4 separate regions of the Homo sapiens genome follow, and all the other regions are linked to region 4. The links come from fine-mapping of genetic effects on gene expression. A gene starts in region 4. Each other region holds a variant in brackets. All regions are shown on one strand. Distances are from middle to middle.

Region 1 (8,439 bases), 34 kb after region 4:
AAAATCATTTGACCGTATACATGAGGGTTTGTTTCTGGACGTTCTAGTCTATTACATTAGTCTATATGTCTATATGCTAGTACTCCACTTTTTAAATTACTGTAGTTTTGTATCAGTTTTGAAATCAGGAAGTGTGAGACCTCCAACTTTGTTCTTTTTCTAGATTGTTTTGGCTATTAGGATATGTTGAGGTTTTATATGAATTTTAGGATGTATCTTTTATTTCTGCAAAAAATGCCACTGAGAACCTCTAGGCCAGTCGTGGTGGTTCAAGCCTGAAATCCCAGCACTTTGGAAGGCTGAGATGGGCAAATTTATTGAACCCAGGAGTTCGAGCCCAGTCTGGGAAACATAATGAAACCTCATCTCTACAAAAAATACAAAAAAATTAGCTGGGCACAGTGGCACATGCCTGTAGTAACAGCTACTTGGGAGGCTGAGGCAGGAGGATCACTTGAACCCAAGAGGTCAAGGCTGTGGTGAGCCATGATTGCACCACTGCACTCCAGCCTAGGTGACAGAGTGAGACCCTGTCTCAAAACAAAACAAAAACCTCTATAGTTTTCATAATGATTTACATTTCCACCAAAAATGCACTAGTGTTCTCTTTTCTTCACACCCTCACCCACATTTGTTGTCTTTCATATTGATAACAGCCATCTTAATGAGTGCTAGGTGATATCTCACAGTGGTTTAAATTTGCATTTCCCTGATTAGTGATGTTGAACACCTTTTCATTTATCTGTTGGTGAGTTTTATGTCTTCAGATAAATGTCTGTTCAGATCCTTTGCCCATATTTTAGTATGGTTACTTATTGCTCTGCTATTGAGTTGTAAGAATTCTTCATAAGTTTTGGACATTAACGTCTTATCAGACACGTGGTTTGCAAACATTTTTTCCCAGTTCCTAAGTTGCCTTTTCATTTTGTTGATTGTTTCCTTTGCTGTGCAGAAGGTTTTCTGTTTGATGTAGTTCCATTTATTTATTTTTGCTTTTGTAGTCTGAGCTTTTGGTGCGATATCCAAAAAATCATTTCCAAGGCCAATATCAAATAGATTTTCCTATGTTCTTTTCTCATAGTTTTATGACTTCAGGTCCTACATTTAGGCCTTCTATCCATTTTGAGTTTATGTTTGTGTATGATATAAGATAAGGGTTCAGTTTCATTCTGTTTCATGTGGAGATACAGTTTTCCCAGCACCATTTATTAAAGAGACTATCTTTTCTATGGTGCCCTTTTGATGCTCTTGTCAAAAACTAGTTGACCATGTATGTCTGGATCAATTTCTGAGCTCTGTATTCTGTTTTATTGCTCTATGCTTCTGGTTTTATGCCACTACCATATTCTTTTCTGATTACTATAGCTTTGTAATATAATTTAAAATCGGGACGTATGAAGGCTCCAAATTCATCTTTCCTTTTTTCTTTCTCAATATTGCTTTGACTATTTGAAGGGTTTTTTTTGTCATTCCATATGAATTTTAGGATTGTTTTTTCTATTTCTGTGAACAATGCCTTTGGAATTTTGATAGAGATTGCATTAAATCTGTATATCACTTTTGGTGGTGTGGACATTTCAACAATATTAATTCTTCTGATCCATGAACATGGTATATATTTGCATTTAATTATGTCCTCTTCAATTTCTTGCATTTAATGTTTTATAGTTTTCAGTATACATATCTTTCACCTCATTGTTTAAATTTATTCCTAATTTTTTATGCCATTGTAAGTTGGATTGTTTTCTTGATTTTTGTTTTTTCACCTGGATTGTTTTTTTGTATGTGGAAATGCTACTGGTTTTTGTGTGTAGATCTTCTATCCTGCAACTTTACCGAATTCATTTTAGTTCTTTTTTTGGTGGAATTCTTGGGATTTTCCACATACAAGATTATGTCATCTGTAAATACGGATAATTTTACTTCTTCCTTTTTTTGTTTGGATGCCTTTTATTTCTTTTTCTTGTCTGATTGCCCTTGCTAGTACCTCCAGTACAATGATGAATATGAAGTGGCAGAAGTGGATTTATTTGCCTACTACTGGATCTTAATGGAAAAACATTTAGTTGTTCCCCATTGATTATGATATTAGCTGTGAGTTTTTCATAAATGGCCTTTATTATGTTGAGGAACTTTTCTTTTATACCCAAGCTGTTAAGAGTTTTTATCAAGAAAGGATGCTGTACCTTGTCAAATGCTTTTTCTATGTCAATTTAGATGTGGTTTCTATCTTTCATTCTGTTAATGTGACATATTACAATGATTTATTTGTATATGCCAAACCAGCCTTGCATGCCAAGGATAAATCCCACTGGTCACATTACGTAATCTTTTGAATGTATTGTTGAATTCAGTCTGCAATACTTTATTGAGAATTGAATTAATATTCATCAGCAATATTGGCCTGTACTTTTTCTTTTCTTGTGGTATCTTTGTCAAGCTTCAGTATCAAGGTGATGCTGGCCTCATAAAAAGTTTTTGGAAGTATTCCCTCTAGCTTTATTATTATTTTTTTTTTTTGGAAGAATTTAAGAAGTATTGGTAATAATTGTTCTTTGAATGTTTGGCAGAATTCAGCTGTGAAGCCATCTGGTCCTGGGGTTTTCTTCGTTGGAACGTTTTTAATTACTTCTTCAATCTCTTTATTTGTTACTGGTCTGTTCAAGCTTTTTATTTCTTCCTGATTCAATATTGAATCTAGGAATTTATCCATTTTCTCTCTGTCATCCAATTTGTTGGCATATAATTGTTCATAATAGTCCCTTATGATCATTTTTATTTCTGAGACATCTGTTACAATGTCCCCACTTTCATTTCTGATTTTATTTGAGTCTTCTTTCCTTATTTTCTTAGTCTATCTAGGGGTTTGTTGATTTTGCTTGTTTTTTTCAAAGAACCAATTCTCAGTTCTATTGACTTTTTTTTTCCTTATGTGGCTTTTCTGTTCTTTATTTTATTTATTTTTGTTCTAATCTTTATTATTTCCTCCCTTGTGCAATGGGTGGTCTTCCTCTTCCTCTTCTACTACTACCACTACTACTACTACTACTTCTTTATCTTCTTCTTCTTCTTTTTCTTCATCTTCTTCTCTTTTGAAACAGGGCCTCACTCTGTCACTCAGGCTAGAGTGCAGTGGATCAATCATAGCTTACCGCAGACTCAAACTCCTAGGCTCAAACAGTCTTTCAGCCTTGGCCTCCCAAAGTACTGGGATTATGGGCATAAGCGCCACACGTGGTTTTGTCCTTTTTCTACTTCTTTGAGGTATATAATGTTATACTATTTATTTGGGATCTTTCTTTTTTAATGAAGGCATTTATTGCTATAAAATTTCCTCTTAGAACTACTTTTTCTGCATCTTATACATTTTGATATATTGTATTTCTATTGTCATTTTTCTCAAGATAATTTTTTAATTTCTGTGATTTTTTTCTTTAACTACTGGTTGTTTTGGGAGCATGTTGTTTCATTATTACATATCTGTTAATTTTACAAAATTCCTCATATTATTGTGTTCTAATTTCACACTGTTGTGGTTGGAAACAATACTAGATATGATTTCAATTTTCCTGAATTTATAAGACTTGTTTTATGGCCCAACATGTGGTCTATCCTGGAAAAAGTTCCATGTGTGCTAGAGAAGAATGCTGCTGTTATATGGAAAGTTCTATATATGCTTTTTAGGTCCATTTGGTCTAAAGCTTAATTCCAGTTCAGTATTTATTAATTTTCTGTCTGGTTGATCTATCACATTGTTGAAAATGAGGTGTTGAAGTCTCCTACTATAATTATACTGCTATCTATTTCTTCTTTTATGTTCATTAATATTTGCTTTTTATATTTAGATACTTTAATGTTTGTACATATGTATTTACAATTGTTGTGTCCTCTTGATAAATCACCCCCTTTATTATTAAATGATCCCCTTCTTTGTCTCTTGTAACCATTTTTGACTTGGAGTCTATTTTATCTCATATAAGTATTGCCATCTCTGCTCTCTTTTGGTTATTATTTGCATGGAATATCTTCTTCCTTCCCTTCACCTTCAGCTTATGTATGCCCTTAAAGCTAAAATGGATTTTTTGTAAGCAAGTACAAAATCTTTATTCAAAGAAAAACTCAAGATATAAAACAAACATACAGGTATA[C/G]CAAATATAGTGTGTATACCTAGAAGTGAGATATTGGGAAAGTGGCAAATTAGAGTAGAGGTAGAGATGAAGGGAAAAACTAAAATAATGCAGACCAATGTAAAAATGTGTCATTAATTAGGCATATGGTCATCTCACTTCTCTGCACTTAAGAACTAACAGGAAGAGAAACTGTGAGTCATGGAGAAATAGAGGACTTACTTGAGAGAGATGAGTATGGTGACTAAGAAGATGAATAAAAGTGATGAATGCTTGGAACAGCTGATTTGGGTCAAGTACAAGCATTACCAGGGAGCCCTGAGAGGTAGTATGAATTAACTGTGGCCCCAACCTGCATAGTTGTGGACTTTTTCCTGGAGAAGCACTGGGCTGCCTGGTACAGGAATGAGGATGGAAAATGCTTGGGGATATCCAGAATGGGGAGGTCAACTGAGTCTGAAGACAGAGAGCTGGACCTGTTGAGATGCAGATAAGAGAGTGAAGAATTGATCAGGGAGTGTGGAGAGAACCTGTGATGGTGTCTGCTCCTTATTGGGCAAAAGGCTGCCCCAGCGTGAAGAATGGGGAAGTAGCTCATCCTAAGAGCTTTGGTCCAAATAACCTCTCAAGCTAGAAGGGTAGAAATGAAGTCTAGTATAAAATACACTGAAGCTGGTTCAACAAAGTGAATTTGAAATATTCACCAAATCAAGAAAATTAGGGTCTGAGAATTCTGAAAGCAAGGTCACCAAAACCATTAGTCTAGAAACACAAAGATTCTGGTCAGGCACAGGTGATCTTGGTGGGATTTCAATAGGATTCGATCAAGCCCAGAACTGCAGTGACTCCCAAGTGGGTAACAACTCACTAGTGTTTTTGTTTAACCAAACACCAGAGGTAGATGTGTGCTGGGGGATGAGGAGATGGTGTGAAGGGAGAAAGGAAAGTTCTAGGAGGCTAAGGGTACTCATGGGAGATTCTTTTTTGCAAGGGGAAGGCAGGCTGATGTAATAAAATAGGTTGTTCTCTTTCTAGATCTTTATATACTGAAAGCGAAGTGATAGAGCTAAGCAACCTGATTAGCTGAGGAATATGTCACCTCCTGGATCTGGGGCTATACTATAAATTATCTAGTTCTTGAACACACAAATTCAAAATGAGGTCTGGTCAATGGACAAATCAACTCTTTCTCATGATTTTAGAATAATGCATGTCCTCAAAGCATCATTCTATTTATCTTTCCTTGCAGATCTTTTAAATGTTGTAGTAAGAGTAGAGACATCAAAGTAGGGTGAACCTCTAGACTATCTGAAGATTTCTGCTTCTGTCGATAGCAAAAAGAATTACTCAGTCATATGGTTTGGATCTGTGTCCCCACCTAAATCTCATGTTGAATTATAATCCCGAATATTGGAGATGGGGTCTGGTGGGAGGTGATTCGACCATGGGAGCGAATTTCCCCCTTTGGTGCTGTTCTCATGATAGGGTTCTCATGAGATATGGTTGTTCAAAAGAGTGTGTGGCACCTCCCTCACTCTCTTCCTCCTACTCTTGCCATGTGAAGTGCTGACTCCCCATTTGCCTTCTGCCATGTTTTTAAATTTCATGAGGCCTACCCAGAAGCCCACCATACGCCAACATCTTGCTTCCTGCACAGCCTGTGGAACCATGAGGCAATTAAACCTCTTTTCTTTATACATTACCCAGTCCCAGGTATTTCTTTATAGCAATAGAGAACTAACTAATACACTCAGTATACTGGAGACTGCAGAAGTCCTCTGTTTGCCTGTTTATCCATCCATTGATCTATTCATCCATCCATCCATGCACCCATCCATCCATCCATCCATCCATCCATCCATCCATCCATCCATCCATTTAACGAGCACTTTCTATGTACATGGTGCTGTTTTGAGCAGTTTATAAATAATAACTCATTGAATCTTTCTAATAACTGCATGAGGTATGTATTGTCATTATCCACATTTTATAGATGGGAAGCTGAAACAGAGAGAGATTAAGGGCCTTTTCCAAAACACACAGCCAGTAAGCATTGAGTCAGGACCCGAACCCAGGCCGTGAAGCACCAGTGTTCATGCTCTTAACCACCACATCATTGGCCATCCTTGGTGACTCTGAAATCCGTCTAGGAAGTTATTCAACTGCTAGCATCATTGTTCTTCCCAGTAGCTCCTGAGGGCCCTGGGATACTGTGCTTGCCTATAGGCAAGGCAGCTGGTAGGAGAGGCCCTTTTGTGGAATGCAGTTACTCTCTTGTTAGTTCCCACTTTTTCTCTTTTCATCTCCTTTTCTTCCCATCTGCTCCTCTTGTGTGAACAGATGTGAGTTTCCTCCTTGACTTTCCAGGCCATGAGTTGGAACACGTTGTTCTTAGGTGATCATTTTAGAGATGAAAGTGTAGTGTACAGGGGTGATGGAGCCAAGCTATGAGTTCTTCATCACTCTCTTACCTGCTCATCAGCAGCTCCATCTCCCTGTCTGCAGCCTCAGCTGAAACCTCCGCACCTGGATACCCCCAAACATCTGCCATCCTCACTCCTGCACCAGGCAGCCCAGCACTTCTTTGGAAAAGTCCACAACTGTGTAGGCTGGGGCCACAAATAAAAGACTTGCTTTTCTGAAATCTGAATTGTCATCTTTAAAAAAATGTTTCTATCTCTCATGCTAAAGTATATCTGTATATAATCAGGGTACACTTCCATCTGACCAATTTAAGAATTTTTATCCTTGACTGAAACCAACTAGTAACCGAAATGTGTGTGTGTGTGCATGTATGTGTGTTTGTGTGGTATGTGTGTGTGTGTGTGTGTGTGTGTGTGTGTATTTTCCTATCTTTTAATGTAACTATGAGTTTATCCTGTGTTAAATGGTTTCTACTGAATATGAAGTTAAAACAAAGGGCTTTTAAACTTGTAGAGCTCCAGAAGAGTCACTAGTGCATTAACTGAAAATGCAAATTAACAGGCCTGCACCATGGGGACCACAGAGGTCATCTGACCAAAGATGAAACTGATTTCCTATATTTATGCATCCTAATAAATCAGCGGGTGGAAAACATGCCCCCAGAGAAGATTGGCCCTATCAGTTTTTTCAGCTGGCATTTAGGCATTTGCAAAATAGCTCCCTTAGCATCTTCATCAAAAAGCTCCAACGATAAAAATAATAGAAACCGGCCGGGCGCGGTGGCTCAGGCCTGTAATCCCAGCACTTTGGGAGGCCGAGGCAGGTGGATCACGAGGTCAGGAGATCGAGACCATCCTGGCTAACACAGTGAAACCCCGTCTCTACTAAAAATATAAAAAAAATTAGCCTGGCGAGGTGGCGGGCGCCTGTAGTACCAGCTACTCAGGAGGCTGAGACAGGAGAATGGCGTGAACCCGGGAGGCAGATCTTGCAGTGAGGCGAGATGATGCCACTGCACTCCAGCCTGGGTGACAGAGCGAGACTCTGTCTCAAAAAATAAATAAATAAATAAATAAATAAATAGATAGATAGATAAATAATAGAAACCTCCCTAGCTTAGTTATCTGCCTTTCTCCTCCTATCTTCTGGATAAAAAAGCATTTAAAAACTACAAGATTTGTGAAAATTCAGAATATTTTAGAACAGGTGTATTTTGTACTAATGGCAAAAACCACAATTACTTTTGCACCAACCTAGTAGATATGAGAAAGTTTCAGCTATTGAATCTGGTATTCTTGATGGTTATCAGTTGCTCTGTGTTCCTGCCTTTTGCAAGTTTTGCTGGGCAAGTGTAATTCTTTCTTAAAGGAAACATTTATTCTCCCAGATGCCACTGTGGCCTCAAAACAGAGGCAGATAAACTTAATCAAGAACTGTTTAATAATGACTCTGTGTTCCAGCACGTCTCAACTGTGACACAGCTCCTCAAACCATTTATAATTTTGGAACGGTTACAAGCCTATTTCACATCAAACAATTAGAAAAATGTAACCAGGATTATAACCAAATTCTCAGTGATGTGATTCAGACTCAGTGCAGTGTCAGTTACAGAAGGATGAGAAGGGTCAGAGAAGACTGAAATAGTTTGGGAGGAATTTGTAGGTAAGTGAAACTGATGCTGGGTTTTGAGGATGGAGATGGTTTGAAAGGGAGAGAGGAGCATTTCCTCTGAGCCACAGTTAGGAGAAGAGAAGGAGCACTTTGGTGCTTTGGAGACAATCAGAGGACAAAGACGAGCCTGCTTGGAACAGAGGATTTAGGAGGGGAAATAGCAGTATGTTAACCAAAATGATGATACTTTGTTTTCTAAACCAGAAGCCTAGGAATG
Region 2 (8,439 bases), 43 kb after region 4:
TAGAGCATATTTGAATTGCTTTGAATCATGGAGCCAAATAAGACAATTGGAGATTGAAAGCTGCAGGTCAGAGAGGCAGAGCCGTCTCTGTTTTCCTGTGCTTTTGCAGGAAGTGCATTTTATAGAAAAGTCAGAGAGGAACTGAGGGGAAACAGAGAGCTCTGAGCTGGTGAATTCACAGCAGCCTGGAGAAGCATTCCGGCTGCCTCTGAAGCTGGCTCTTCACACCCAAGGGCTGCCCCTTGGGAACCTGAAGTCACTGTCCCAGCTAGTCACAAGGCCGGGGAGGCCTCACTGATGAGGACAGCACTACGGGCCTGAGTCTAGAATGGTAAGAGGTTCTCAGTCTTTGAGACAATTATTGGTTGTTTGAGTTTAAAACCAGTCTTTTCCTTTCTTCTTTGTAATTGAAAAAACATGTATAGACTGTTTAAAAACTTGTTCTTGCTTTCAGAACATTTATTTGATGCTCTAAAACTTTCCTTTAGATCTTCTCCAGATCATTACTAAACTTACTAGTGTATTTGACCAATCCCAAGAGCCAGCAGTGTGAATGCCTGCTGGGATTTAGAGAGCCAGTCTGAAACTGCATGCTGGCATATGTGGGTTTTCAAAGATTCCGCTCCAGTGGCAGAAAGCTCTCGGCCAAATGTATGTGAACCAAACAAAAGTCAGGGGCAGTGAGAATGAAAATCGGCCTCAATCACACTTTGAATATTGCTGTCATATGAGGATTTTAACAGCCATGGAAAGTGTGAGATTCACTCTCTGCTGCACACTGGGGCCCCGCATCCGTTAAGGATTGTGGGCATTCTGAAAGCTCTCATTCTGAAAGCTTCGGGGGTATTTTTAGATGAGGCTTGTTCCTACGAATGAGGAAGTCTAGCAGATGGCTCTTCCGGCTGGAGTCTTTTTTTCCAGCTTTCCACCAACATAGTATGGAGACCACTCTGGCAAGACCTCTCTCTAAGGACAATGGAGGGAAAAGCTATTCTCAAAACACTGGGCAGCAGCTGCAGGGCTGGGGCTCTGAGGACACCGTGCCACTGGCCTGTACCTTTCACCCTGCCTGCCTGGACTGTATGTAATCAACAGTGGGAGGCCGAAAGGAAGTTTGAGGTTAAGCACAAGATGTCTTTTATCACACTACGTGAGTGAAGACATCTGTGGAGACTGTACTCTCACTGTAGATGATAAGAATGTTATTCACCAAACAGACAGAAAAGACTGGAGTATGAGGTTTTTGTCCATGGAAGTATTTTGCAGATGGTTTGCACCAGTTTTGTGAAAGACAGATCAAATTATTATTAATGAAGGAAAAGTGCCTTTAAAAAAGGCTAAGTAGTCTTGTTATACCGCATTGAGTACACTCATTGTCTTTTGGCCTCACATCTGATAGAACAATCCTTTAGGGCTCAGAAAAGTCATCATTGCAATAGTAAGCCTTTTCCAGGGATTCTTAAGAAGTCTATTTTACACACAGTGTAAAGACCCAAACAACTTGATTGTAAGTCTGTGCTTTGATGGCAAGCTTCCTGTTCATTTTTTAATTTGATGTGGTTTTGCTCATGCCCTAATTAAAGTGGCAATTCTCAAAAAGTACAGATTGCACAGGTTTCCAGGGCGGATGCTTTTTAATGCAGTTCATAAGAAAGAGTCATCAGTCCTAAGGTTTTATTTTATTTTATTTTTGAGACAGAGTCTCGCTCTGTCACCCAGGCTGGAGTGCAGTGGTGCCATCTCAGCTCACTGCAACCTCCGCCTCCCGGGTTTGAGCGATTCTCCTGCCTTAGTCTCCTGAGTAGCTGGGACTACAGGCATACACCACCGTGCTTGGCTAATTTTTTGGTTTGTTTTTAGTGGAGGTGGGGTTTCACCATGTTGGCCAGGGTGGTCTCGAACTCCTGGCCTCAAGTGATCCACCCGCCTCTGCCTCCCAAAGTGCTGGGATTACAAGTGTGAGCCACTGTGCCCAGCCTTAAGATTTTGCTATTAAGCAAAAGGGTCACCTACGTGTGTTTTGGAAGACCTGTTATATCCCCATTTACAACTGAGCATTCCAAATGCCTACTGATTTCTGATTTTCTTTTTCTTTCTTTCTTTCTTTTTTTTTTTTTTTGTAGAGACAGGGTCTCACTATGTTGCTTAGGCTGGTATCAAACTTCCAGGCTCAAGTGATCCTCCCACCTCGGCCTCCTAAAGTGCTGGGATTACAGGCTTGGGCCACGATGCCTGGTCACCTGTTGGGTTTTAGCGACCTGGCAGGAAGCTGGATTTCTCAAGCTTTTCCAATAAAGAAGAAGCAGTTAGATCCCAAAAGCCATGAAAATTCCACTTGTGGCTTAGAAACTAAGATTTACCAAAGTCCACTTTGGGAGGCTCCCTTCCTCCCTAACACACACACACACACACACACACACACACACACACACACACACACCCTGCGGATAATTTATCCTGTAATCACAGGGATAGACTAATTTTGTCTGCATTCACTTGATGAGAGTTTTGACAACAGTGACTTCTGCTATAGTAACTATAGACAGAAGAATTAACTCCCAAGTCTTAAAAGAGTAGTTAGGTCTATGATGCAACTGTTTCCAGCCACAGGGGTGCTCTGTGGTGGAACCAACCCTCGTTGAGACTGCCTGTTCCCACTGAGGGGTCTGATGGAAATCCCACTGTGTTATTTTGTGTGTTGTTTGCCTTCCAGAGGCGCAACAACAGATCAACAGGAGCAGCCACCCCCTGCCTCATTCAGGCCCTGTGATTTGCTTTCTCACTAGAAATTTTCATTTTTAGTGTATCAAATATTCCAAGCATGCAGTGAAGTTCAGATAATAATTTAACTGACCTGCAGGTGTTCCCTAAGATTTTTCAAATATTAACATTTTGCCATTTGCTTTAGATTTTTTAAAAATAAAATGTTACTGCTACTGTGGAAGATCCCTCCCTATCCAATTCCCATTTCAACCTCCCATTGCTACCCAGAGCAATCACTGTCTTGAAGTTGATGAGTATCATTTACATTTTATTATGTGCTCCGTAAAACATGTATATATCCTTATATGTTTTTAATCTCTATACAAATGGCATCACATTTTACTTGAGCCTTTTGTAAATTACTTTTAATACTCAGCATTTTAAAATATTTCTTCATATTGCTACCCTAAAATCCAGTTCATTTTTTTCTACTGCTATAAAGTATCCCACCAAAAGACTATACCACAATGTTTTCATTCCTTTGTGGAAGCACCGTTCAACAGTTTAGAAGGTTATTTGCTATTTGTAACGTTGTGAACACCTTTCTCCACTTATAAGAGTTTCTCCAGCTCTGTACTGCACAGTATGGTAGCCACTAGCTTAAAATGTGGTTAGTCAGAATTGCAATGTGAGTAAATATAAAATGCATGCCACATTTTAAGGACTTAGGATGAAAAAAACATATGGAATATATCATTAATAATTGATATAGGTTATACTGATTACTGCTTAAAGTGACAATATTTTGAATACATTATGTTAAATAAAATGTATTACTATAATTATTTTTTCCCATTTATTTTACATTTTTTAAATGTGGTTACCAGAAAACTTAAAATTACATATATGGCTTGCATTATAATTCTA[T/C]TGGACAAGGCTGGTCAAGACCAGCCAGTAACTGATTGCCCACATGCAAGACATCTGTTTTTGTAAATAAAGCTTTATTAGAAAACATGCCACTAATTTCTATGGTGGCTTTCCAGCTACAACAGCAGAGTTCTGTAGTTGCAACAGAACCCTTATGGTCCACGAGCCTAAAATATTTACCATCTGGCCCTTTAAGGAAAAGTTTGTTGACTCATATTCTAGAGCAGTAATTTTTAACCTTTTTTAAAAACCATGACCCACAATAAGAAACATTAATATCATGACCCAACAAACACACATCTGAAACAAAAGTTTTACAAAACAAAGTTTCACAAATCCTTTCTATGTATTTTCATATTTTCTGTTCTGTTCTGTTTTGTTAAAATAAACTGCTGGTCAGTAAACTGCTAGTGACCCACTCAAGTGACTTAGCCATTCATTCATTACTAGTTATTTAAGTAACATTGCTCAAGGACATATACCCAAAAATGGAGTGACTGGATTATAGGAATGTGTGTATTTAACTTTACAAGATTCATCACATTGTTGTCCTGTGTGTGAGTTTACCAATCTACAGTCTCACAAACAGTGTGAGAGAGTTCCTATTTCCCTATATCTTTAACAAAATCTGACGTTGTCAGTCTGATCTGATGGGTATGAAATGAAATCTTGTTTTATTTACAATCTGATCATTCATAATTTTAATAATCTTTTCATGTGTTGAGTGGCCTTTCTTGTTTCATTTGTGAGTTGCCTGTTCATTTCCATTTTAAAAATGGGGTCATTTGTCTGTTTCTTAGATTTATAGGCACTCTTTTTTATTCTGCCTACCAGTACTTTATTAGTAATGCGGGTTGCAAAGATGTGAGTTGGCCACTCCAAGGTTTGTTTTTTTTCACTTTTTAATGGTGACTTTTATGTTATGAGGCAGAAGTTTTAAATTTTAAAGTAGTCAGATTTATCTTTTTCTTTATATTGCTATTTTTTAGCCCTTATTTTAAAAATTATTTCCTACCCCAAGTTCATAAAGTTTTCTCGTTATTTTTTCTGATGAATTTAAAATTTAATGGGTGTTTCTTTTCTGTTGAAAATTCGTGTTTCTACACGGTATGAGATATGGCTCTACTTTCTTTTTTTCTTCACATCATAAATAGCTGGTGTAAGTACCATGAATTGACTTGTTAATCCTCCAGTCTGTTTCTTGGGTCTGTGTCCTGGAAATGTTGGTCCTAGATTTATCAGAACCAGATCTTTACTGATCTCATTTATACAGCAACTGGTCCTTGATGGTTTTACAGGGTAGTTTTCGCAATCTTTCAGAGAACACATAATGTTTCTCTTATAAAAATTACCTGAGATAAGGCCGGGCGCGGTGGCTCACTCCTGTAATCCCAGTACTTTGGGAGGCCGAGGCGGGCAGATCACGAGGTCAGGGGGTCGAGACCATCCTGGCTAACACGGTGAAACCCCGTCTCTACTAAAAATACAAAAAAATTAGCGGGGCGTGGTGGTGGGCGCCTCCTGTAGTCCCAGCTACTCGGGAGGCTGAGGCAGGAGAATGGCGTGAACCCGGGAGGCGTAGCTTGCATGAGCCAAGATGGTGCCACTGCACTCCAGCCTGGGCAACAGAGCAAGACTCCATCTCAAAAAAAAAAAAAAAATTACATGAGATAATTGAAAAAGTGAAAGTTACTCAATTCATTTTATAATTCCTTTTCTTTTTTTTGAGACACAGTTTCACTCTGTCACCCAGGCTGGAGTGCAATGGCACCATCTCGGCTCACTGCAACCTCCGCCTCCTTGGTTCAAGCGATTCTACTGCCTCAGTCTCCCAAGTAGCTGGGATTACAGGCGCAGGCCACTATGCCTGGCTAATTTTTGTATGATTAGTAGAGATGGGGTTGGCCTGTTGGCCAGGCCGGTCTCGAACTCCCTACCTCAAGTGATCTGCCCGCCTTGACCTCCCAAAGTGCTGGGATTACAGGAGGGAGCCACCGTATCCGGCCGTCATTTTATAATTCTATTTTAACCTTTATATCCAAATTGGACAAGGACAGGACAAGAAAGAAAAATTATGGGCTAGCCTCTATTTGAATGTAAATGTAAAAATCTTAAACTAAATATGAGTAAAACTGAATCCAGCAATGTGTAGTAAAATAAGTTCATACAACATGTGCAAGGATGGCTTAATTAAGAAAAGCTATTAACATAACTCATCACATTCACAGAGTAAAGGAGAAACATGATATGATTTTTTTCCCATAGATGTAGAAAAGGCATTTAATAAACCCTAATAGCCAAAAATGATTTTGAAATACAAAACCTTAGAAAACTTGAAATAGAAATAAACATCCTTAGCCTGATAAAGTGCGTCTACTGAAATCTGTAGTAAATATACGCTTAGTATTGAAGGATCCCTTGTACTGCCTGTGTGTGGAGTTCCCTCTTTGTATCTGGCACCTGAGAATTGTTCTTTCTTTTAATCTTGGCTGTTACTTTAAGTAAGTATGTGTGTGTGTGTGCATATGTATATGAATATATATATATGCTCATACATACACATGTTTATGTATTTTTTGGTTTTGTCTATTTACATACATTTCATGAAGTTTGTGGAGTGGGAAGCTGTGCCAGCTCTGTAGCCATGGTGCTGTAGTTTCTCCCTTAGTGATTTTCTGGGCCTGAAGACCAAGAAACTCTAGAAACCACTTTGGAAGGGGCAAAGTAGGGGATAGCCACAGAGCTGGCTCTGGCTTCTCTCCTAGACTGAGGAGTTGTTATGCATGACTTCATATCCTGGCTTCCCTTGGAGAAAACTATTAGTGATAGATCTGATGTGGATATAAGAATATTGTATGAAACTGTCTGATTTTATTTTGCCAGGAGATTAGGCAAGGATCAGCTACTGCCATAGCATTTCCTAAGGAATTGATATTTCCAAGGTTCCCACAGCGATACTGAGATACAAAGATGAAGATTAGTCATAATGTTGCCTTCACTGTCACATTTTTTTTTTTGACAGATTTAACACAGTTTAAAAGTACGATTCTAAGGGTTGGGAGTGGGGAGAGGGACGTGTTTTCAAGGAGCACTTTTTGTGGTAGCGAACAAACTTTAAACCCTCCTGTTGATACACAGGGGATTCCCGTGACTATGAAAATTAAAACAGGGCCTGGCAATGTTGAACACAAAGAACAGCCAATAAATTCTTGACCGTAAGGTCATGCGCATTAAATAAGGCAGTTCTGATGCCAAATCAGTACTGTACTGTATATTTCCCATAGCAGATATTGAGATATGGATCTGCCGTAGAAGGAACAGGAATGTCATCAGGAAATATCAGTTCAGACAAATGTGGGTTTCCACCAGCAGGGGAAGAGCTGGACCTGGTGTGGATCTGTCTCCCTTCATGGTGAGAATGTCAGATCAGAAATGAATATTCATGTGGCCCTTGGAAAGTGGGAAGGAGAAATCAATAAGCTAAACACCCAACCTAATAATAGAACTGTTTTCTCCAATGTGAGTGTTTTTCTCTTGAAGTTGGTATTTCTGTCCTTGATCTGTTGGTGATGCTATTTAGAGATGCAACAAAAGATTTCACAGAAAAGCAAAAGGTTGGTTCCATTGTTCTGGAATAAGGGTTATGTCAATTTGTTTCTATCTAAGCATGTCACTGGAAGTCTGGTTCACATTTAAAGTTTTCCTTAATTCCAAGAAACAATCTAGACCCTTTGAAGCTTTGGCAAAAGAGTACCAGGTAAAAAAAGAAATCCCACTTGTAAAGGCCTAGTTTGCAATTCATTTGTCCTGGGATCTTGCAAAAACAACCCAATATCTGTATGTCTCTATACATTGGTGTGTATGATAATATCTTTATTTTTCTTTGTAGAGATTTTACACAGGATATAATAAGTGACACAACTGTTTTGGCAGATGGGGTCAGAATATGAAGGCAATTCCTTCCATGTAAGAATTTTGGTGCTTGTTTAAATTTAATAGACTCGCTTCTCCTAACCACACTCTGGAAGTCTCCTGTCATTCATGCACATAAGAACTCAGAAGAGAACCTCTACTGTCTCCCCAAAATCTTTTTTTTTTCTTTTAATAAACTTGCTGACATTGGCCAGGTTTCAAGAGCATGGTAAGTTCATGATCCATCAGCCTGGTTTCTGAATGGAAATCCAATGAGTTATTTGTATTGTTTGTTCCTACCTTTTCCAGGCACCTTCTAAAAATGAACAAGAGCAGCTCTGATTTGGAAAAAGTGAGCCAGGGCTCTGCAGAAAGCCTCAGCCCATCCTTCAGGGGTGTCCACGTCAGCTTCACCACCGGCTCCACGGACAGCCTGGCCTCAGACTCTAGGACCTGCAGCGATGGAGGTAACAAACTTGACATTGACGGAGAGGCTTAGATTCTCCTGGACCTTCAAGACCAGTCCTGCGTTGCTTGCGGGATTGGAAGGGCTGAGCAAGGACTACTGTCTTGGTCCTGCTTTCTCAATGAAGTAGACTCTTCCAGGGAGCTGTTGAAGTCAATTATCTACTGAATATATGGCAAGCCAGCCCATCCATATTGCCCTCTCCAAATTATAAGAGTGTGGACGTGGCAACATGGTGGGAGGAAGATGAGGTTGAAAGGCTCCTATTTCCTTGGGTAATGAGCCATCTGTGTACAGGCCTGCTTTTTACTTCTGTCCTCAGGATGGGTCCTAAACCACACATTCTCACTATCTCTTTCTCTCTCTCTCTCTCTCTCTCTTTTGCATCTACATGTGCATGTACCCACATGTACACACTTACTGGACACAGC
Region 3 (5,000 bases), 74 kb after region 4:
AGTCATGTGGCTGTAAATATTAGGTTTAGCAAACAACTTCATTCGCACTAAATTCAGAGGTTCAATATAACTGGTTTTTTGTTACTTCAAAATACACCTAGGCTGCATGGCTTTGTCTCACAGAAGACTCTAGCATGATATCCATTATGCCCAGAAACGATAGTTTGTTCTGCAGGACTGAGGTTCAGAAATAATCAGGGACTTTTGTACGAGGACAGTTGCAGGATCTGGCAATTTAATACTCCTGTTATCAGTGAGTTCATCTCCCATTTTTCTTGGCTCTAAACCCAACTACTGGTATTTAAATCTCCAGTTTTTCTTCTCTCCCACTGAGTCAAGTCACCCCCATTATGTTTTCCACATACGTAATTTTTGTTGTTTGTAAGCCATTCTCATTTTCATGCCAAGATGTGGAATCGTTTTTCTTCTAATTTTTTTAATGTAGGCGTTATAAAGCCTCATATCTAAATAGTTATATCCTTGCCAGAAGCCAGATAAGCGCTTTAGGGATTATTTATTTATCATAACATATGGCTCAGATCTGAAAAGACTGGTTTTGGGGAGCTGTAGTTACCACTTTATATAACACTTCATGGTTTCCAAGAGCTTAGAGCTGAAAAAACTCTTTTGAGATGTACGCGTGTACATAAAATAATTATAAAGATTTTCTAAAAAGAAGACACATGTTACTTTAGTGAGTTCTAAATTTGCGCTTAAAATACAGTCAACAAATGAAGCAGCCCTTTTCTGCTCTGTTGAATATCTGAAAACCTTTGGAGATCTAAAGATTAGCTTACCAAATCCCACTAAAAATAGTAGATTTGTAACATAAAACCAACTTGCCATTTTTAAGAGATGGTGATGTGAATGGAATTTATTTATTAGAAATCAAAGTTTAACCCAGCTGATGTCATTGTTGAAAAAAAAAAAAAAAGCAAGAATAAAATGGTTGGAACAAGTACCATGGGATGATTGTCTTGACAATTACCCTTTCTTTCTTTTTTCCAGTGCTAATTAATGCAGGCAATGGGGCAACCTCCCTGTAAAAGATATCCTAGGAGGAGGAACTGCACCCCGGGAAAGTGGTCAGGAGGTAACCCGATGGACTCTAGGGTTCCAGAAAAAGAGTCCAAATTCACTCAAAAGTGATATTGTTGGTTTAGGGGACTCTGGGGTTGGGCCAGAACATCTGTGACCAATGTGGATCCTTACCAGATCCAGGATACTCAGTCTTGTCTGATCTGGATCTTTTCTCCCAGAAGTTGACTACATCCATGCCAAGCTTATGGAACTGGGGAAGGAAGGTCAAGTTCACTCGAGATTTTTCTGCGTGTCAACAGGCTGACTTTGTATTGCATTATCCCTGGGGAGTTTGAACATAGACATTGATCACATATTCTAAATGTTAGACTCAAATATTTCCAGCTCCTATGCCAGAGGTGATTACAGCTATTTCCTAAAAAAATACTGCCCTAGACACCAGATGGGCTGAGATTGTGAAGATGTTTGTGCACTGTAACAAACTTAAAGGTTACTCTGCAGACTTCTGCTTTACTGCCTTATTAGGGCAAAGCAGACATGGAGACAGGTTGAGGGAATTGAATGTGGAGGTCTAAGGAGAGAAGACAAGGCGGGAATTGAGAACACAAGATTCGAAGACAAACTACCTGCTCTATTCGGTTGGTGCAAAAGTTATTGTGGCCTTTGCCATTACTTTTTAATTACTTTTAATGCAAAAACAGCAATAGCCTTTGCACCAATTTAATATCATATGCATGGATCCAGCCCCGGTGACTTTCCACAATCCTGAAAAGGTAATCAGGCCTTCACTCCTTTACTAGGATTACACAGACATTTGTATGTCCATTATTTTCTCAAAGATTTCCAGGAATGA[G/A]GAAGCTGTAACCATTTCCTCTTTTCTAGATTGTGTAGAGTTCAATTTCAGAACTTACAGCAGATTCTGTAAAAAGTCAGAAAGACTTTAACAACTGAGCCTCTTATTTAAACCCTTTATTTACTGGCCATTCCCACCACCACAATGACATAAGCAAGTTCTGGTTTTCCTAAAAGAGAAGCGGATTTTCTTTTTCCTACCCCTCAGCTTTGTTGGTTTTATTTATTTGAGTAGGCAAGCCCTAACATGGCACTCAAAGATAAAACTATCCAACAGGTGTACTCAGGGCTGGGCACAGTGGCTCACGCCTGTAACAGCATTTTGGAAGGCCAAAGCTATAATCCCAACACTTTGGGAGGCCAAGAATTGCTTGACGTTGGAGACCAGCCCTGGGCAATTTTGGGAGACTCTGTCTCTACAAAAAAATAAAAAACAAAAAAATTAGCCAGGCATGGTGGCACACACCTGTAGTCCTAGCTACTCACCTCCAGTGAGGTGAGAGGATCCCTGGATCCCGAACGATCAAAGCTGCAGTGAGCTAGGATGGTGCTACTGTACTCCAGCTTGGGCAACAGAGAGACAGAGAAAGGCTGTCTAAAAAAAAAGAAAAAAAAGGATGCTCAGAGCACTCAGAGCAGGTATCAATCCTCCATGCTTTCTCCTCCATGCCATTTTCCCCTCCTTTCCCCTGTGAGCACCCACCCGCTGTGGTCACCAAAGTCACCAGTTTCTGCTTGATCCTTCCTGTGTTTGTTCACAAATGAGCAGATACAAGTATATCTTTCTTTCTTACACGGAAGTTACCATGCCTGAGATGCCAGAGCGCTTTGCTTTCCTCACTTAGCAGTATGTCAACAAGAACTTTCTTTCTTTTCTTTTCTTTTTTTTTTTTTTTTTTATTTTTTTGACACAGAGTTTTGCTCTTCTTGCCCAGGCTGGAGTGCAATGGTGCAATCTCTGCTCACTGCAACCCCCTTCTCTGGGGTTCAAGCAATTGTCCTACCTCAGCCTCAGGGGTTCAAGCAATTATCCTGCCTCAGCCTCCCGAGTAGCTGGGATTACAGGCATGTGCCACCACACCCGGCTTATTTTGTATTTTTAGTAGAGATGGGGTTTCTCCATGTTGGTCAGGCTGGTCTCGAGCTCCCAACCTCGGGTGATCTGCCCGCCTCAGCCTCCCAAAGTGCTGGGATTACAGGTGTGAGCCACCGTGCCCAGCCGGAACTTTCTTAAAGAGAAGTGACTTGATTTCTCCCCTGAGTTAGGGAATTGACAGGTTTCATCACCTTTTCCCCAGGCATTAAAACGTCATTTGCACTGCTTGGAGAGCATTAACTCATCAAAAATTTAATGATCTCTTATTGGTATTGCTCCTTGTTTTTGGTCTTAGGACAACTCATTTAATTTCCATTGGGAGATACAGACTCTTTTTCTTCCCAGATGGAAGTCCTGAGGCTTGCTCTAAAATGCAGTTAACATTGGCAGCAGAGCCCTGAGTTAATGATAAAATTCACCCTCAGGCCCTTACTAGTCCCTGGAGTGACTCTGCTAGTCTTTGCACTTGCAACTCAACACTTCTTTGACAAGGTCTGCATTGGTCCCTTGTGGCAAACCCAACCTGGTGCCTATGGCCGGTTCTCCAAGGAAAATGCTTCAGGATGATCTTTCAGAGATAGTGTTTAAGGAAGAGCAAGGTTGTGCTACTCTGTGCCTTGGCTTTTCTGTGCCTCCAGTGTGGTCATTTCTTTCCATGACTTTAGAGAGCTGCAATGTAAGCAACAAGGACTCCACTCATTGAAATAGTTCATGGAACTTGGAGTCAGCTCTTGAACAATAGAAGCCTGATGCTGTTAGTCTTGGCTGAGTACAACATGAGTCATGTGCTGTTTCAAGTACCCAACTGAACATGGGTAGAAAGAAGGGGCTCCCTGGGTGACAGCCAGTGGAACAATTCCATGTGGAGATAGGGTTGGGGGAATGAGGTGGGGTGGGGGCTGCGCTCCCAGCACAGGAAGCAGACAAGGGTGCAGATCAGCCTGCCTTCCCGGTCAGTGCCGACTGTGCCCTGCAGCCGGGGTTGGCAGACACCTCCCAACTATGAGTCACACATTTGATCACAGCGTTCATCCTGCAGACAGGCCTCACTGGAACCAGCTGCTGGGCCCTGGCCTATTACCCAACTACCCCCTTTGTTTCATCTCTGAAAAGGCAACAGTTCATTGGAGAAAGAGTCAAAATGAAGAAAACCAAGGGCAATGTTAAATGGCTATGGCAGTCATTCATTCTTTTGGTAGGATATTCACTTCTATTTTTTTTTTTCTGAGATAGAGCCTTGCTCCATTGCCCAGATGGAGTGCAGTGGTATGATCATAGCTCACTGCAGCCTTGACTTCCTGGGCTCAAGTGATCCTCCGACTTCAGCCTTCCAAGTAGCTGGGGCTGCATGTTCATGCCACCATACCAGACTAATTTTTTGTAGACATGGGGGTCTCACTAAGTTGCCCAGGCTGGTCCAGAACTCCTGGTTTCAAGCCATCCTCCCACCTCCATCACCCAAAGTGCTGGGATTGGAGGTGTGAGCCACCACATCCAGCCCAAGATAACCATTTCTAAACAACACCTGTCACAGGTGCTCTCATAAAACGGCTTTTCACTGGGGCACAGGCCTCTGGTAGCAGTTTGATGGAGGGTTGGAATCATGACCTTCAGTTGGACAGGCCTGGTGAGGTCTGGAGTGTTTCCCTTGTGGTAACTCTAAAGTTATTGGGAAGGAAAGGAAATAATGCAGGAGACAGACAGTGAATATTCCTGCAGAGATGTTAAGAGCATAATACAAGCCCTGATAATGGCCACAGCTGGGCTCTGCGGGGTATCTGTGTTTCTGTAAATGGACACTACTCAGTTTAGCAAACGGAAAGTGGCATTACATCCGGGTCCTCTGTCTCATTTTCATTCACAGATCCCTGTGGGCTGAGCACTGAGGAAGGAATTCATTAATGCCGCTGACCTGTCATTCAAAGACTCCCTGGGTTGCTTGAACAGAAGATTTTAGTTTGGTGTCTGATGACAATGTTGGAAAACTATGAATGACAGAATAAGAGTGTCT
Region 4 (5,170 bases):
CAGATAACTTGAGGTCAGGAGTTCAAGACCAGCCTGGCCCAACATGGTGAAATGCTGTCTCTACTAAAAATAGAAAAATTAGCAGGGCATGGTGGTGGCCGCCTGCAATCCCAGCTACTCAGGAGGCTGAGGCAGGAGAATGGCTTGAACCCGGGGAGTGGAGGCTGCAGTGAGACAAGATCTTGCCACTTCACTCCAGCCTGATTGAAAGATGAAACTCCATCCCAGGAAAAAAAAAAAAAAGAATAAGTTAGGTAAAGAGAAGAAAATAAAGTGCAAAAGTAAGTGCTTCTTTTATGTGTTCAGCACAGCCTTTATTCTGTGAGGTCAATGTCTCTCTTACAGAGGAAAGAAGTGAAACATTTAGCCTGAATCCTGAGAACCAGGAACTTCTCAAACATCTTAGTTTGCCCTCTCCCAGTGTAAATGAATTGCACACTTTCTGAAGTCACTTTTGTATTTCTCCATTGCAGACCACTTTGTACCTACCTGTTTAATCAACATCTTCCCCTCTTGAGTCTTGGTAGGGTCTGGATCTTTCAGCTCTGTTGGATGCTCATGAAGTGTAACCAAAGTTTCCCTTCCTTTTTTTTTTTTTTTTTTTTTTGAGACAGGGTCTTGCTCTGATACCCAAGCTGGAGTGTAGTGGTGCGATCTCAGCTCACTGCAACCTCCACCTCCCTGGCTCATGTGAGTCTCCTGCCTCAGCCTCCTGAGTAGCCGGGATTACAGGCGCCCACCACCACACTCGACTAATTTTTGTATTTTTAGTAGAGATGAGGTTATACCACATTGCCCAGGCTGTTCTTGAACTCCTGGCCTCAGGTGATCTGCCAGCCTCGGCCTCCCAAAATGCTGGGATTACAGGTGTGAGCCACCGCGCACGGCCAGTATTTGTTCAAATGATTTCTCTCCACTTAGGGGAGAGAGAAAAATAGGGCTGGACTACCTGCACTTGGCAAGGGCAGAGTGGCAGAGTAGACTTGCCTACCAGCGAAGCCAGACAGCCTTTGGTTCCAATCTTAGTACTACCACTTTTCAGCTGAGGAACCCCAGCAAATTGTGAGGCCCCCGAGCCTCAGTTTTCTTATCTGTAGAATGGGGATAATGATGCTCTCCTCATAGGATTGCTTAGCGCTGGGTAGGTCCTTAAGGAATGTCCATTGCACTCCCATCCCTCTACAGCTTCCCCCAGATTCTGTCCTCTTAGGAGGCATGGGTGTCACTGGAACATGAGGAAGAATTCCCTGGATCCTTTTTTCCCTTTCCTCACACAGAAGCCAAACCTCAAATACACATCTTCCCTCTCTGTCCACACCCACAGCAGCAAAGAGGAGAGCCAGGGATCTGGGGGTGGGGGTGGGGGCCCATCTTCCTCCTCTCAGTGGGTGGGGGCTCGCAGGCTGACTGGCAGAGGACCTTCACTGGAGTCAAAATAAACTGCCTTCCTGGGGAGGGGATAGAGGGCGAGAGAAGCCGCAGGTATTGTTTTGTGGGGGAGGGGGGTCCTCTTCCTATTCCATTTCACTGAATTCTTCCCACCCGGCATGGCCCTGGGAGGTGACCATAGCCCTGGCTCCCCGAGTAAACACCCAGGTCAAGCTACAGGACTGACTGGGTCTTAAGCTATTATACTCCCAGTGAAAAGATTTTTTTAGCCCGAGGACTATCTCGAACTCGTTCTATCTCAGTGAATGACTCACTGGAAACGGTGTAAACACAGGTGTATTACTGGCCTGCGGAAGACTTGGATGTCCCAGCATGGTAGAAGGCCAGGTCCCTGCAGTGCAACGCTTGCATTCTACATCCAGAAAACTAAAGTTCAAAGAGGTTAAGCAATTTGCCAGAATCCTGCAGTCCAGGGACTGAGCGGAACCTGGAATCCGCCACCGGGACTTCCAGCCCTGCTCCCTCCGGCGCCACCCTCTTCCCAGAGGTAGGGAGAGCTGAGGCTCGCTGTGCTCACGTGGCTTTCAGAGCCCGCCTCGGACCCTGACCTGTATTCCACTCCCGACCCCACACTTCCTCGTTTCCCCTTCCTTCTCCCTCTCTTCCCAGGGTCCCGCAGGGCCGGCTGGATGAAGTGATGCCGGGCACCTATACACGCATGATGGCAAAAGGAGGATTGCAACGCCAGAGCTCGCCCCTCCAGAGCTGTGCAGGGTCCCCACCGAGGAGGGGGTGCAAACGGGTGCTGGGCTCGGGGGTCAGCCCGCGCCAAGTCTGGGGCTGGGGGCGGAGCCTGCCGGTCCGGGGCGGGAGGGTGGGCAAGAGAGGGAGTCCCGGGGCCTGGAGACTTTGGAGGAGTCGGGGCCCTGGGGGTAGGAGACCGCCGGGTGGGAGCGGCAGGCGCAAGCCGGGCGGCGGGGCGCGCGGGCCAGGCGGGGCCGGGCGGCGGCAGGGACTGCGGAGGTGCGGCGTGAGCTGGGGCGGGCGGCGTCACCGGAGGCGGAGGGGGCGGAGCCGCGCTCACAGCTGCCACCCGGCCGCCGGGCCCAGGCAGAAGCCACCCGCCCGCGGCCGGGCACGCACCGCGCGCAGACCTTCTGCGAACAATGCTCCGGCCGGGCGGCTGGCGGCTCGGAGACCGACGGAGGGGCCGGGGGAGCGCAGCCCAGAGGTGAGCCCGCGACGCGCTCTCCAAATTCGGCCTCTTTTTGTCTGGCGAGCGTGGTCGCAGAGGGGAGCTTTGGAGGGGCGCTGCGATCGCCGAGCGGGCTACCCCCGGGGTGACAGGCGACCGCTCGGGAAGTGGGCAGTGCCGGGGCCGCGTGAGCCCCGGGTGGTGCCCGAGGTGCAGGGAGGCGCCCGGCCGGGAGGACCGAGGAGCTGGAGGGTGTTTTTGATTCATTCGAGAATCGCGCTCTTTAAAACGGGGAAACTTTCCTACGAGTTCCAGGAGGGAGGACCGACTGTTAGGATGGTTTCTCTGGTCTTGCTGCTCTGTCTGCGGCCGGAGGCTGAAGCGCTTTGAGGACTGCTTTCCACCGCTAGAGTATTGTCAAGGGGGAGAGACGGAAGGCCGCCTGGCTGCTGGGACCAGGACCCGGGGGGATGGTTTGGGGGTGCAGGGTATGCAGCAGCGGGGCTCCAGAGGCAACGAGATGATGCCCTTTTCCCCGAGCCCTGGCTGAGCCCTCTGAAACGCATGCTGTGAGCACGTTATTAACCTTTGCTGGTATCCGGGGACACACACACTTAGAACATAGAATCCTCTGCTGGGCATGGAGGCGGCCGGGCATTCGCAGCGGAGAGCGCCAGCTCACGGTGTGTGCGTTTCTCTCAGGTAAGCTCTCCCTGCACATGGTTTTGCAGAGCCGATAGCAAAGCCCAATGGTCTAGGGGCGAGGAGTTTTGGCGATGCATTCAGTGCGGAGTCAGGCTCAGAAGGCTTTCCTGATCACTGGCCTGAACTATTCTTAACAACTCCTCTCCCCTTCCCTTTCTGAGAAGAAAATTTGACAGAAAGCCCTAGGGAATTCCGCAGTTATTTTTCTCTCCTGAGGTCTGGTTGGTTTCGACTGTAGTGGGTGCAAAACCACATTCCTCCCTCTGAGATTTTCTTTCCTCCAGCACTGGAGGAAGAAAAAAGAAAAGGAAAAGTTGGGTGAATATCGTAATTTACCCTCTGCGTGAGTAGGGAGGCAGGGGGCTAGTGGGTGGTAAAGTTGTCACTTTCTCCTTTCTGCCTGGTCAGCCCTGGCCAGTGGAGTGTGCTGAAGTTCAGACACTTTCCACACATATTTCTTTCCTTTTACTGGCGTTGCATTAATTTAACTGTAACATACAGAAAAAAATTTTAGGTGAATGTTTTCTGCAATTCTGTCACTTCAGAATAAGGCATAAGCAACTTCTGATGTAAGTCTGAGGGGGTATTTTGGGCCAAAATATTTAATCTTAAAGATCTGGCCACCTTGATTCTTCAGATTCTTTTTTGAAATGGGGTGGGAGTGTATCTGACAGCTTCAGTCTTGCAAACTGTAGCCACAAATCTAGTGCAGAAGTTTGCAGAGGCAAAGACATTTTTTTCATGACTTGGATCAGAAAGAATGCTGAGCTCTTTTTTCTAATCTGACACTGCAGCCTCCTACTGAAATGGGGAGGATTTGCATAATTCTGGGGGCTGCCTCCCCTCAGAAGTAAGGAATGTGGGCTGCGAAGTGCCTTCCCCATGCTGTGGAGAGCTGGCACTGCTGCACCAGGCAAGGCGAGGCAAGGCTTTGTGGGTGCCACTTGTGTTTCTCACCATCTTTTACTTAAAACAAATAGGAGATAATTCCAGGCACAGAAGTGCAACGGGAAAAGAGGTTTTTTTTTTTTTTTTTTTTTTTTGGCTGCATGCGGTGGTAAATTCTGTTTGCTGCGACTGAGAAACCAGTTTTAACAGGATGCAGTGAGTCAATGACAGTGGGAAGCCCAGGGCTTCATTTGTTCTTTTCTTATTCAATGACTTCCCTTTAAAAATCTTTGCGTCCATCCGTCCCTGGCAGTCGTGTGATGAAAGTTGCCTCTCTAAACATCCAAGGATTTCTGAGCTGAGAATGGGAGCAAAGAGTGCTCGTAAACTGATGAGACATTCTCAAGGAAACTTCCCCCACGCTAGCAATCCAGATCCTTCCACACTCCCTTTGCACAGGGCTGTGCAAAGGTTGGGGAATCTTAGAAAGTAGGGCCTCTGATACCAATGTCACCCCTTCCGCAAAAACAAGTTTGTGTTCTTACTTGCCTGTTGAGGAGGCAATAAGTCGCCAAGCAGAACTGCTGCTTTGTGAATCTGTGATAGACCCTGAGGAAGTGGTTGGGCACCCACCTCCTCAGATAGCCCAGTGTCAGGAGGAGCTGTGGGAACTTGCAGAGCCCACACAGAGCTGGTTTCCAAACTGTCTTCCTCCATCCCGCGGAGCAGGCATGGGAGCATCTGCCTGCAGTGGAGGTGGGCTGGACAGTGTCCTTTCTGTGGCCTAGAAGGTGTAGACAGTCTTCACCCATCAGCGTCCCAGGAAGGGACCTACTGCCTATTCCTGAAGGCTGGAATACTTCCTCTGCTTTTTCCCCCTCCCAAAACTTAGCAGCAAGGCTACAGTTCTCTGTGGCCTGAGATTATAAGAGAAAGACAAAACCTGGCTATTTCCTCCGCTTGTTGAAGCCCAGTGACCTCTTCTGGAGAACT

Evidence for each region. PIP is the estimated chance that this variant, and not a neighbour inherited with it, causes the effect.
Region 1: its variant is the best candidate, but not a certain one, in a credible set for the expression of PRAG1 in whole blood (TOPMed, PIP 0.69).
Region 2: its variant is the best candidate, but not a certain one, in a credible set for the expression of PRAG1 in monocytes (BLUEPRINT, PIP 0.72).
Region 3: its variant is the best candidate, but not a certain one, in a credible set for the expression of PRAG1 in whole blood (TOPMed, PIP 0.51).

The regions. Positions count from the first base shown.
Region 1 is chr8:8,348,462-8,356,900 of GRCh38, reverse strand. The region is part of intron 3 of PRAG1 (PEAK1 related, kinase-activating pseudokinase 1); the gene reads left to right. Among named protein-coding and RNA genes, the nearest start is that of PRAG1, 34 kb to the left of the region's middle. RefSeq lists an enhancer at 4,406-4,535. The variant C/G (reference allele first, on the strand shown) is at 4,149.
Region 2 is chr8:8,339,048-8,347,486 of GRCh38, reverse strand. PRAG1 (PEAK1 related, kinase-activating pseudokinase 1) reads left to right here. Exons shown (of 6, transcript NM_001080826.3): 4 at 7,852-8,009. Among named protein-coding and RNA genes, the nearest start is that of PRAG1, 43 kb to the left of the region's middle. The variant T/C (reference allele first, on the strand shown) is at 3,631.
Region 3 is chr8:8,309,667-8,314,666 of GRCh38, reverse strand. No RefSeq gene overlaps it. Among named protein-coding and RNA genes, the nearest start is that of PRAG1, 74 kb to the left of the region's middle. The variant G/A (reference allele first, on the strand shown) is at 1,895.
Region 4 is chr8:8,383,771-8,388,940 of GRCh38, reverse strand. PRAG1 (PEAK1 related, kinase-activating pseudokinase 1) reads left to right here and starts at 2,502. Exons shown (of 6, transcript NM_001080826.3): 1 at 2,502-2,620. RefSeq lists a silencer at 2,120-2,799.